Homo sapiens: one gene and its partner. The protein of the gene in region 2 purifies or fractionates together with the protein of the main gene of each other region. This does not show direct contact. Each region holds a gene or a part of one and is shown on either strand. Other genes may lie near its edges.

Region 1 (5,341 bases), on a different chromosome or scaffold from region 2:
CGGTAGTTTTGGCCCTCCCCTATCCGTGCACGGCCTCGCTGGTTGATTGGTTCGTCCGGGAACCAATCAGCTCTTCCAATGCCTGGGCGCCTTGATGCTGACCCTGTTCTGGTGGCCCGGATACCCCGGGGCAGGCTTGGTTCCCGACCCTAAGGGTTCCGGTGGGAGAGACTGCTTGGAATCTGCTCTGCTTATTATCTCTAATTCTCCTTTCCTTCTCCCATCATCCTATAAAGCGTTTCTCCATGGGCTGAAATGGAAAACGTGTATAAATGGGGCTAGACGATTGGAGTGTGAAAGTGAGGAGGCAGAAATGCGCTTTGATGGGAGCTCAGACAGTAAAAATTAACACATCATAAAAGATGAGCACGGAAGAGAACGTTGTGGGTGGCGAAGGTACAAAATAGCATTGTAACTTCCAAGAGAAAGCCAAAGCAAAAATAAACACCTGTGTAAGGAAAGACCTAAAGGAGAAAAAAGAGCCTGCCAAACATACCAAACACTATTTCTTGACTGAAATAAAAACGTTATTTAAAAGCCCATTTAGGCCGGGCGCGGTGGTTCACGCCTGTAATCGCAGCACTTTGGGAGGCCGAGGCGGGCGGATCACGTGAGGTCAGGAGTTCGAGACCAGCCTGAATAACATGGAGAAACCCTGTCTCTACTAAAAATACAAAAATTAGCCGGGCGTGGTGGCGCATGCCTGTAATCCCAGCTACTCGGGAGGCTGAGGCGGGAGAATCGCTTGAACCCGGGAGGCAGAGATGGCAGTGAGCCAAGATCGCGCCATTGCACTCCAGCCTGGGCAACAAGAGCGAAACTCCTTCTCAAAAAAAAAAAAAAAAAAAAAAAGCCCATTTGGACCCTTTACGAGACAGCAACTTGGAGGCATACCCTGTGGTATAATTGTGTAGATGGGGGTCCTTGTGACTGCCAAACGCCTGAGATCTGTCCCCACTCCAGTGAGTTTCCCAGGGCGAGGGCGCCTGTCAAGGCGAGAAGGAAAAGCAGGCAATGGTGAGAAAGTTATGAGAGGTAGGAAAGAAGATACTGAAACACTGAAGGTGGAAGCCGTTTGGACACAGTAAAAGGAAAGCCTCAGATAAGCATGAGGGAAAGGAAAGAACGAATTTCAGAGTGTTTGCATGCCTATGGTAGGCACAGGATGCAATGAGACACGCATGAGAGAGTGCTTAGAGGGCTCCCCCCATCCTCTCTGGGCCTCCATTTCCGCATCCCTAAAAAGTTAATTTTTTTTTCCTAGAATAAAACATGAGAGATATTCAACTTGAAGCCTAGGAAGGCCACTGTAAAATGTTACAAATTTTAAAGTTAGTGGCAAAAATAATACATGTGTGATAATTCAAGCAAAGACCTATTTAAAAAAAAAAAAAAAAAGTCAGCCCCTCTTCCCCAGCCCTCACCTACTCCCTAGGAGTAATGAGGGTTCAATGTTTGGGTGATATTTGGCTTTCAGACTTCTTTGGATGCCCTCATAAATACATATCATGCGTTTCTTTTTTCTTCTCAAAATAGACTCATACTAAGCATATTATTCTGTAGCATTTTCACAAAACACTATGTCATTAACAGTATTCATAAGTAAACACAGAATTACCTCATTCTTCTTAAATATATACTATTGGTAATGGCTAACATAGTTAATGCTTACTCTTTAGTGCTTATACTGTTTTATATCATCTGATTTTCATAAAAGCCTAATGAGGTAGGCACTATCATTTCCATATTATAGTTGAGAATACAGAAGCACTGAGTGATTAAGCAACTTGCCCAGGGTCAAGCCTGTGTGTGAACCCAGGCAGTCTGACTCCAGAGCTCGCAACACCAAACTCGTTCTCTACAGTAGATTAAATTATGATGTATTCATCTGTACCCAGGAATAGCCACTAAAGTCTTGGCCATCTCTCTCTTCTCACCTTTAACCCTGTCAGATAATATACTGTACCGCTTCCTTATATCTTGAACTGTTAGTTTATCTTCCTGCAAAAATGCATCCTGAATGATCAAAATGGCTGAAATAGGGAAGGAAAGAGAAAGACAAGTAGGGACTGTGGCTGTGATCAGAAGCTGCCACCAGTAATGCTGCCCTTTCCTACAGGATTTACTGGGAGAAGAAATTCTGTTCTCTTTGTACTAGAAGGTACCTGAGAGGGGTTGAATAGGTAGGAAGATTGCTCAAATTGTGGTGATAAGAACTGTACTAAGGAGCTAATGCCTGAATCAGAAGTGATCTGTTTACCTCTCTAGAAAGTGAGTCACGTTCCAAGCCTTCCTTGGGAGGAAAAATTGACATCTTTTGGTCAATGAGTTAATGTTGATGACTGACCCTTTGAGATGGTAGAAAAATTAAGGAGAAATGGTCTAATCTTTTGCCACTTACTGTTAATCCCTTTCAAGAAGAGAGACTCTATAGGCTATAGAACTAGAGAATTAGCCGTAAGCAATCCCTGCTAGACTTGAGGTTGCAGAAACTGAAGATTTTCGTTCATTTCAGTATTCATTGGCATTGTCCTAGATGGAATTTCCCAGCTCTTGAAAAGCTTCCTATTACAGCTGAAAAGTTTAGCCACTTGGCTAAGGGGTATTTGCAAGGTTGTAAAGCTCTGTAAAGCATTGTAGTTATAGATAACATCTACTAAGCTAAAATCTTTCTAAAAACATGCATTAGCAAGTTTTAAGTTTGGCTTTGAAATCAGTGGCTGAGCCTGTTTGGTTTGCTCATTTGATAAAGCCCTTGGGGAGCAACAGTCTGACCCAGAGACCAGGCGGCAGCTACTTCCTTTCTCTCAAATACCACCCAAGTGGAGGTTGGTTCATTTTTATAATGGGTTGGGAACCCATTTTGGCTTTTTTTCTTTTTTTACCTGTTTGCCCGATTTTTATCCTGTTGATGAAACAGTTGGTCTTAGAGATGCCAGCAGGCATGGAATTTGTGCCTGAAACTACAGACGTAGGGAATGCCAAAGAATGTGTTGTGGTTTTGAGCAACAATATTGTGTATGTTAATGCATCATATTCAGGTTTTTATCAGTGATACATTTGTTTACTTGTACAGAAAGAATACATTAAGTATAGCTAATTTTACTTCGGTTATAGCTATAACTATAAATTTTTTTTCCTATTTCTTATAAAAGTACCCCTGGACATAAGTAGAAACAAAAGCTACTTTGAGAGTGTCTGTTAAATGTATATCATATAAGTGTATGTCTCACAGAGTTGAAAATTATGAAATTTTTGATGGAATAACCTTATTTAAATCCAGCCAGCTGCCTACAGGTATTTGGATTTGTTTTGGACTCTGCAGGCTGTCTGTCTCCTTGGTCATTGGCACTAATTGCTTATTACCAATAAATGGCATTAGTTGGCTGGGTGGTGGTGAAGACACAAAAACCGCTATTTCTTTCTTGCCCCAAAGCTCGGAAATCCCCTGGCCTTTCTTTTTCCCTTCTAACTTTTCCTGGCATACCTGCCCCTCTTACTGACTGATACCTCTTTGCAGAACTCCTGCTTGGAAACTTCCTGTTTGACTTTTGCAACTGAAGAAACTTGAGGTTCTCTACTCTTATGTAAGGATAAAAAGGAGTGGGTGAGGGTATCTGCAGATGAGTTACAAGTCCAGAGTAGCCTGAGCTATTTCAGCTACCTTTCTGGTGACTTGCAAAAGGTATTAATTTCCTATTTTAAAGCAGACAGCTAAGCGTTCCTTCATATTTCAGATATAGCATTATAAAGAAATCATCCCCCTTAGGTGGAGCTCCTGGGGATGTCTCTTTTCTTAGGAAAATGCATCAGCTTCTTTCAAGGACTGGTGATGCTTCAGGCAAAGGGTTTAACCATGCAGGGGGGTGTTTACTATATGTTTCAGTCCCAGTTTAGGTAGACATCCGCATCTCTGCTATGACCCCACTATACAGTGCTTTCAATTAAGGTTACAGCAGTACTAGTTGAAAATGTAAAACTGCATACTGGAATTGTTGTCTAAAAATACATTAATGTTCAAGAGTTATTTTTAATTCTCAATGTTTGGTAGAAATAAACTCTGGTGCCTTTATAGTTCTGTGATTTGCCTAATTTAAAGGGAGGATTAGTTAGCTTGTCCCCTTGAATTTTTGCTATCATTTTTCAGGAAATAATCATTCATCTGCTTCCATTATTTCTCTCAATTGATGAAATCATTGCACTCCTACTATGTGTCCAGCATTGGTCCCATGCTGGATTCATAATATAATAAGACATAGTCATTATCCTCAAGAAAATTTTATAGCATAATCTTTCCCCTTTTGTACTTTCTTTGAAATTAAATTAAAATGAAATAGACTATTAAGGTTCAAAGGGACCAGCACCAGGAGTTTTGTTTTGATTTTAATGTCTTAATGCTTCTGGGTAATTTTAAATCTCAGTATTTGGAGCCTTTAAGTCACATTAGGGAAGCAAACTTGTTTTTTCCAACCAGCTTATGATTAGCTTTGTACCTGAAGGCCCAAGACCTTCCCTGCTGTTAGAGAAAAAAAATTATTCTGACACTTGTTACAATGCTGGGGAAGACTTTACTCAAGTCTGTTGCAATATAGGAAAACAACCCAGCTCAATACCACGTTGACAGCTGGTACTTGTAGGCAAAGAGTAGAGTGTGAGGGGTCAGTGGAATGGAAAGTTACTCAGCGGGGACATTAAACCAAACTCAACTGACCTAGCAGGATTCTTGCTGAAAGCAGACCAAAGACTTGTAACATCAAAGGTGGGGAATGAGGAACTTGAGCAGGTATCAAGTTTGGGGGATTCTTGCTAACCTGACTTAACAGGATTCTTGCTTAAGGAACAGGATTGGCGCCAACGTTGTGACTTAGTAGAGAAGAGAGGCCTGACTCAAGTTTGGTGGAGGAGAGAATCTTTGTCATCCTTGCAGATGGGGGAGAAGGGGGAGAGAGTAGGTGGGACTGCAGTTATTTAACTGTGATTTTCATTCTGACTTATCTGCATTACTTCTGTGACCCTCCATAATTGACTGTGTTTCCTACTGACCATGTAAGGAGAGCAGATGCCCTTAATTATGGTGCAAAAGATGCAGGATTGAACCTAATTATACAACATAATGTTATGGCAAAGAGTTGAGGAGCCTTTCCCAAGTTGTTTTTTTAGATAAGTGGTTTTCACTAGCTTTCCAGTTTGGTACTACAGTAGATACTTTGCAAATTATTAGCTTAAGAACGGTATAGCATTTGATTTGTTTGGCCCATCTCCCATATACCATATAGTGATAGGATTATCCCTATTTATACTTTATTAGAGGCATTAAAAATTGCTAAATGCAATAGTCATT
Region 2 (5,395 bases):
CTCCTTCCTCTGGGATCTCTGACCTTAAGGAACACCAATCTGATGCCAGTAGGAACACAGCTGTATAGGGTGTCTGACAACCCCAGTTGGAGTATCTCACCCAGTTGGGTGGCATGAGGAACAGAACCCATTTAATGAAGCACTTTTATTGTCCCTTGGTGGAGGGGGTATGCTTCACTGGGGTTAAACTCACTCCTCTGGGCTGCTTGGATTCCTCAGAACTGGCGGGGGGAAAAGCTAAGTCCACTGGTCCACAGAAACTGCAGTCACCTCTCCCCCTAGGGACTCAGGCCCAGGGAGATCAGAGTTCTGTCCCTGAGCCCCTGGCTGGAGTTGTTGGAGTTCCTGCAGAGTGGCCCCACACAGTGAGGAGGGATGTGTCAGGGTCAGGCCTGAAGAGGAGCTGTAGCTGCAGTCTGGCACAGCCAGTGTGTTAGGCTGTGGGGGACACCTCTTGGGACCAAGCCGTCCAGCATCCCTGGCTCCAGCAGGGGAAAAGCATGGCCAGGAGCTATAGAGATGACTGCCGCCCTTCCCCTGCCCAGGGAGCCTAGTGTGTTAGGCAGCTGTCAGTCCCAGTGCTGGTTGCTGCCCCTCCCCCAGGGAGCTCAAATGGCTTAAACAGCAGGCAGCCATAGCTGTAGTGCTGGTCACCCCTCCCCTGGGAACTCAGCAGGCTTAAGCAGATTTTAGCTGAGAGGCTGTTGAGAATCTGCACAGCTCTGGGGTTGGGATCCTAGGCCCCAGTGGCATGGGTTCACGAGTGAAATCTTTCAGTCTATGGGTTGCACAATTCCATGGAAAAGGCATGGTTTTGTCGGCTAAGTAGCACATTCATTCACCGCCTCCCTTGGCTGGGGGGTGGGGGCTCCCCTGCCCCGTGTGGCTCTCAGGTGGGTTGCTGCACCACACTGCTCTTTCTTCCTCTCTGTGGGTCATGCCAGCTGCCTAGTCAGTTCTGATGAGAGAACCTGGATACCTCAGGTGCCAGTGCAGGATTCACAGGCCATTATGGTTCTTTTCGGTGGGAGTCTCTGATCACCGCTGCTTCTAGTTGGCCATCTTTGCCCTGCCCCTAAAAAATGGCTTTTTTTTCTTTTTAAGCTAAACATGTCTCAGATGAAGAACTGTGTCCACTCTGCCTCCTGGAATGCCATGTGTTCAGTACTTGCAAAGCTTTACTTTTCTACTTGTGCTTTTTCTTCCTAATGAGTTTAACTACTTTTTAGTTCTTATAATAGTCAAAGGTCTCTGAAAAATATTTCTTTCCTACATACCAGAGTCTTCTCTACATTCTCAACATCATGGCTTCTTACATGTCATCAAGAATTCTCACCATGAATTTATGAACTGCAATATTAAGAATGTTTCCTTCGTGGCTATGGAACATGGGAAGGTGTAGATACTCAAGATTCCTATTGGGGAAAAGCTGGGGTCCTTAATAAAGATGGAGAGCATGTAATTTTGAGGTTCCATCTCTGTTCTCCATTAGCTGTAAACAAATAAGATTAAGAAAATGCTTATTTAAATGGGATGGCATTTATTACGCAGAAAGTTTAAAAATAATAATAATTAGGAGATACTTGCTCTTTAGGGTGTGAAAGAAAGACTACTTAAAATCACTATTAAAATTTACAGAACATGGCAGATATTGGTATCTGGAACTTTACATAAAACCAGTGTTTCTTTATGATTAAATTCAGACTATAATTTACTTTTGGCTGGGCAATATCATAGCAGTGATGCCGTGTCCTTCTGTGTGCATCAGCACATTTGTCTTCATGCACTTGATGTTAATAACTCACTTGATTAATGAACTCTGTGACAGATTTTTTTCTATAGAGTTAATTATTTTTCTCTTCATTACTGAGTATCTTTATTCAGCAGATGTGCATAAACAATCACATTTAATCTGGCAGCTGACCTTTCTTAGGCTTTTTTTTTTTTTTTTTGAGACGGAGTCTCGCTCTGTCGCCCAGGCCGGACTGCGGACTGCAGTGGCGCAATCTCGGCTCACTGCAAGCTCCGCTTCCCGGGTTCACGCCATTCTCCTGCCTCAGACTCCCGAGTAGCTGGGACTACAGGCGCCCGCCACCTTAGGTTTTCTTTGCATTTATCTGTCTTTGGAAAATGAAAGCTCTCATCTTTGTTTACAGGCCAGAAAAACTGAAAAACACACAGGCTTTTCCACTTACTGGATGTTTGACAAAATAGTTTTCTTGGACCAAAAACATGGGCATTACTGGTGAGCTTGTTAGAGATTCAGAAACTCAGATTTTATTCCAAATTTTCTTTTCTTTTTTTTTTTTTTGAGACGGAGTCTCGCTCTGTCACCCAGGCTGGAGTGCAGTGGCGCGATTTCAGCTCACTGCAAGCTCCGCCTCTGGGGTTCATGCCATTCTCCTGCCTCAGCCTCCCGAGTAGCTGGGACTACGGGCTCTCGCCTCCACGCCCGGCTAATTTTTTGTATTTTTAGTAGAGACAGGGTTTCACCGTGTTAGCCAGGATAGTCTCGGTCTCCTGACCTCGTGATCCACCCGCCTTAGCCTCCCAAAGTGCTGGGATTACAGGCGTGAGCCATCGCTCCCAGCCCAGATTTTCTGAAAAAATAATCTGCATTAACAAGATCTCCAGTTTATTGTACACATTAACATGTGAGCAGTATTTTCTAACTGAATATGTCTTTTCCATCTGAAAAATTTACACAACTTATTCTGTATGATGTAAATGTAGCACTCAAAAATGTACATGTTAGTGTTAATGCCCTCAATTTTATACTTCATCATCCGAAGAAGTATCATACTTACCTCGATGTTGTGGATCTTATGCCACTCTCTTTTCTCAGAGTTAGAGAATGCATTAGAGAATATACTTCTGTGCTGAAAGTTATTTATTAAATATATCAGTCACTCCTATAAGTAAGAACCAGTTCTCTTTACTCTTGTTTTACCTTGAGTCAAATTAAAAATTCTGTTCATGGCCACTTGGTAAATATGTATGTGTGTTTGTATGTTTTTCAGGGAGTGTTGACATTTAGGGATGTGGCCATAGAATTCTCTCTGGAGGAGTGGCAATGCCTGGACACCGCACAGCAGAATTTATATAGGAATGTGATGTTAGAGAACTACAGAAACCTGGTCTTCGTGGGTGAGGATAACTTCAATATACAATTCCCTAATATACCCTATAAATTTTATTTCTCTTTTTTGTAGAATGGTTTTTGGTAATTTATGCTTTCAGATCTCTGTTTTTTGTTTTTAACTTCAAGATTTGTCTATGTAGAAAAGAATTTCAAGATGTTTCATTTTGACCTGAACTTTCCACACTCCTGAGCTGATCTGTGTTCTTCACTCTAGATTAGTGTTAATTTTAGAAATTTAGTGGCATAACGTACTGTTGCCCACATCTTAAAATCTAATTGCCACTACCAGTTTTTGATTTAGTAGTATCAGGTAGTGAAATTAAGAACTTACAAAATTAAAATATTTCCTAAATATTTAAAATTTTTTGTTGTGTATTAGTATTTTGGAATCAATTTACTAGAATATTCTATTACATCCTTTTTTCTGAACACACTACTAAATTGGTAATTGGAGAATATGAGCAAGATTCATGTTATTTGTAATAAAACAGGTATTGCTGCCTCTAAGCCAGACCTGATCACCTGTCTGGAGCAAGGAAAAGAACCTTGGAATGTGAAGAGACATGAGATGGTAGCTGAACCCCCAGGTAGGTGAGAGTGAAAGTGAATACAACAGATGACACAGATGAGAGCTCCAAAGTAGAAAAAAAAAAAAGCCAGTCCTTAAAATGATTTGAAATCTGTGTTCCAAAGGAAATAGTTTCTGGGAAGCCTGAATTTTTTAAATTTTGCTTTCACATAGAAGCATCTTCTGTCTTATATTTTTAAAATCTCTGAAGATTTTACTTTCCCTTTGGTGATCTTCTTCAAGTTTACAGTGACAGCCAAGACAGCCCTCTTCATGGCACATAAGAGACTGTGAAATCTGACTTTTTCACTGTTTTTGAAAACACGTAGATAATCTGCATAATTTTGAGAAACTCTATGTTAAACTGTTTTTCAAGTTCTGTTTTTACATTATGTCCTAAATGTGTGAGAGCAGTGGTTTCTGTTCCATTGGTTTCTTTATTGCTAATTTTTCTGCACATTGCATTCTGTCTTATTATAGTCTTGAAGTATAGTTTGAAATTATAAAGTATGATGTTCTTCTGCTTTGTCCTTTTTTTTTCAAGATTGCTTTGGCTATTCAAAGTTTATTGTAAGTCTATGTGAGAATTGTATTTTCTTTTTCTCTTTCTTTTTTTTTTTTTTGAGATAGAGTCTCGCTCTGTCACCCAGGCTGGAGTGCAGTGTCATCATCTCGGCTAACTGCAACCTCTGCCTCCTGGGTTCAAGCGATTCTTCTGCCTCAGCCTCCTGAGTAGCTGGGAATACAGGCGCGAGCCACCATGCCTGACTAATTTTTGTATTTTTAGTAGAGATGGGGTGTCACCATATTGGCCAGGCTGGTCTCGAACTCCTAGACCTCGTGATCCGCCCACCTCGGCCTCCCAGAGTGCTAGAATTACAGGCGTGACCCACCGTGCCTGACTGAGAATTGTATTTTCTATTGCTGTAAAAAAAAAATACTGGAATTTTGATAGAGAATTTATTGAATCTAGAGAGCACTGTAGATAACACGGCACTTTAATAATATTCTTTCAGCCGGGCATGGTGGCTCACGCCTGTAATCCCTGCACTTTGGGAGGCCGAGGCAGGCGGATCACCTGAGGTCAGGAGTTTGAGACCAGCCTGGCCAACATGATGAAACCCTGTCTCTACTAAAAATACAAAAAATTAGTCAGGCGTGGTGACAGGCGCCTGTAATTCCAGCTACTTGGGAGGCTGAGGCGGAAGAATCGCTTGAACCTGGTAGGCAGAGGTTGCAGTGAGCTGAGATTGCACCACTACACTCCAATGTGGGCAACAAGAGTGAAACTCCATCTCAAAAAAAAAAAAATTCTTTCAATCAATAGACATGAAATGTTTTTAAATTTATTTTTGTCTTCTCCAATTTTTTTTTATTGATGTATCTTTTATTTGAAAGATATTTAAGCTCCTTGGTTAAATTTGTTCTCAGAAATTTATTATTTTAGTGCTATTGTAAATAAGATTGCTTTCTGTCTCTTTTTTGTCAGATAGTTTGTTTAAAGTGTATGGAACCATAACTTACACTTGTATGTTAATTTTCTATTTTGCTAAATTATTGAGTGTAATTATTACTTTAATTAGGTTTTAAATGTACTGTTTATGGTTTTCTATATACAAGATCAAATGATCTACAAAAAGCAACTTTTTACTTATTTGTCTTCAATTTCAGTGACTTAATTTTTT

The links. The genes of interacting proteins can lie anywhere in the genome.
Region 1: the proteins of ZNF492 (region 2) and PPM1H purify together in Homo sapiens (affinity purification with mass spectrometry; one large-scale study listed by BioGRID and IntAct). This does not show direct contact.

The regions. Positions count from the first base shown.
Region 1 is NC_000012.12:62,928,140-62,933,480, reverse strand, and holds part of PPM1H (protein phosphatase 1H), read left to right. Parts: intron 1-5,341. UniProt on the Homo sapiens protein: Dephosphorylates CDKN1B at 'Thr-187', thus removing a signal for proteasomal degradation.
Region 2 is NC_000019.10:22,650,287-22,655,681, forward strand, and holds part of ZNF492 (zinc finger protein 492), read left to right. Parts: intron 1-3,020; 5' UTR 3,021-3,113; coding exon 3,114-3,147; intron 3,148-3,633; coding exon 3,634-3,729; intron 3,730-5,395. UniProt on the Homo sapiens protein: May be involved in transcriptional regulation.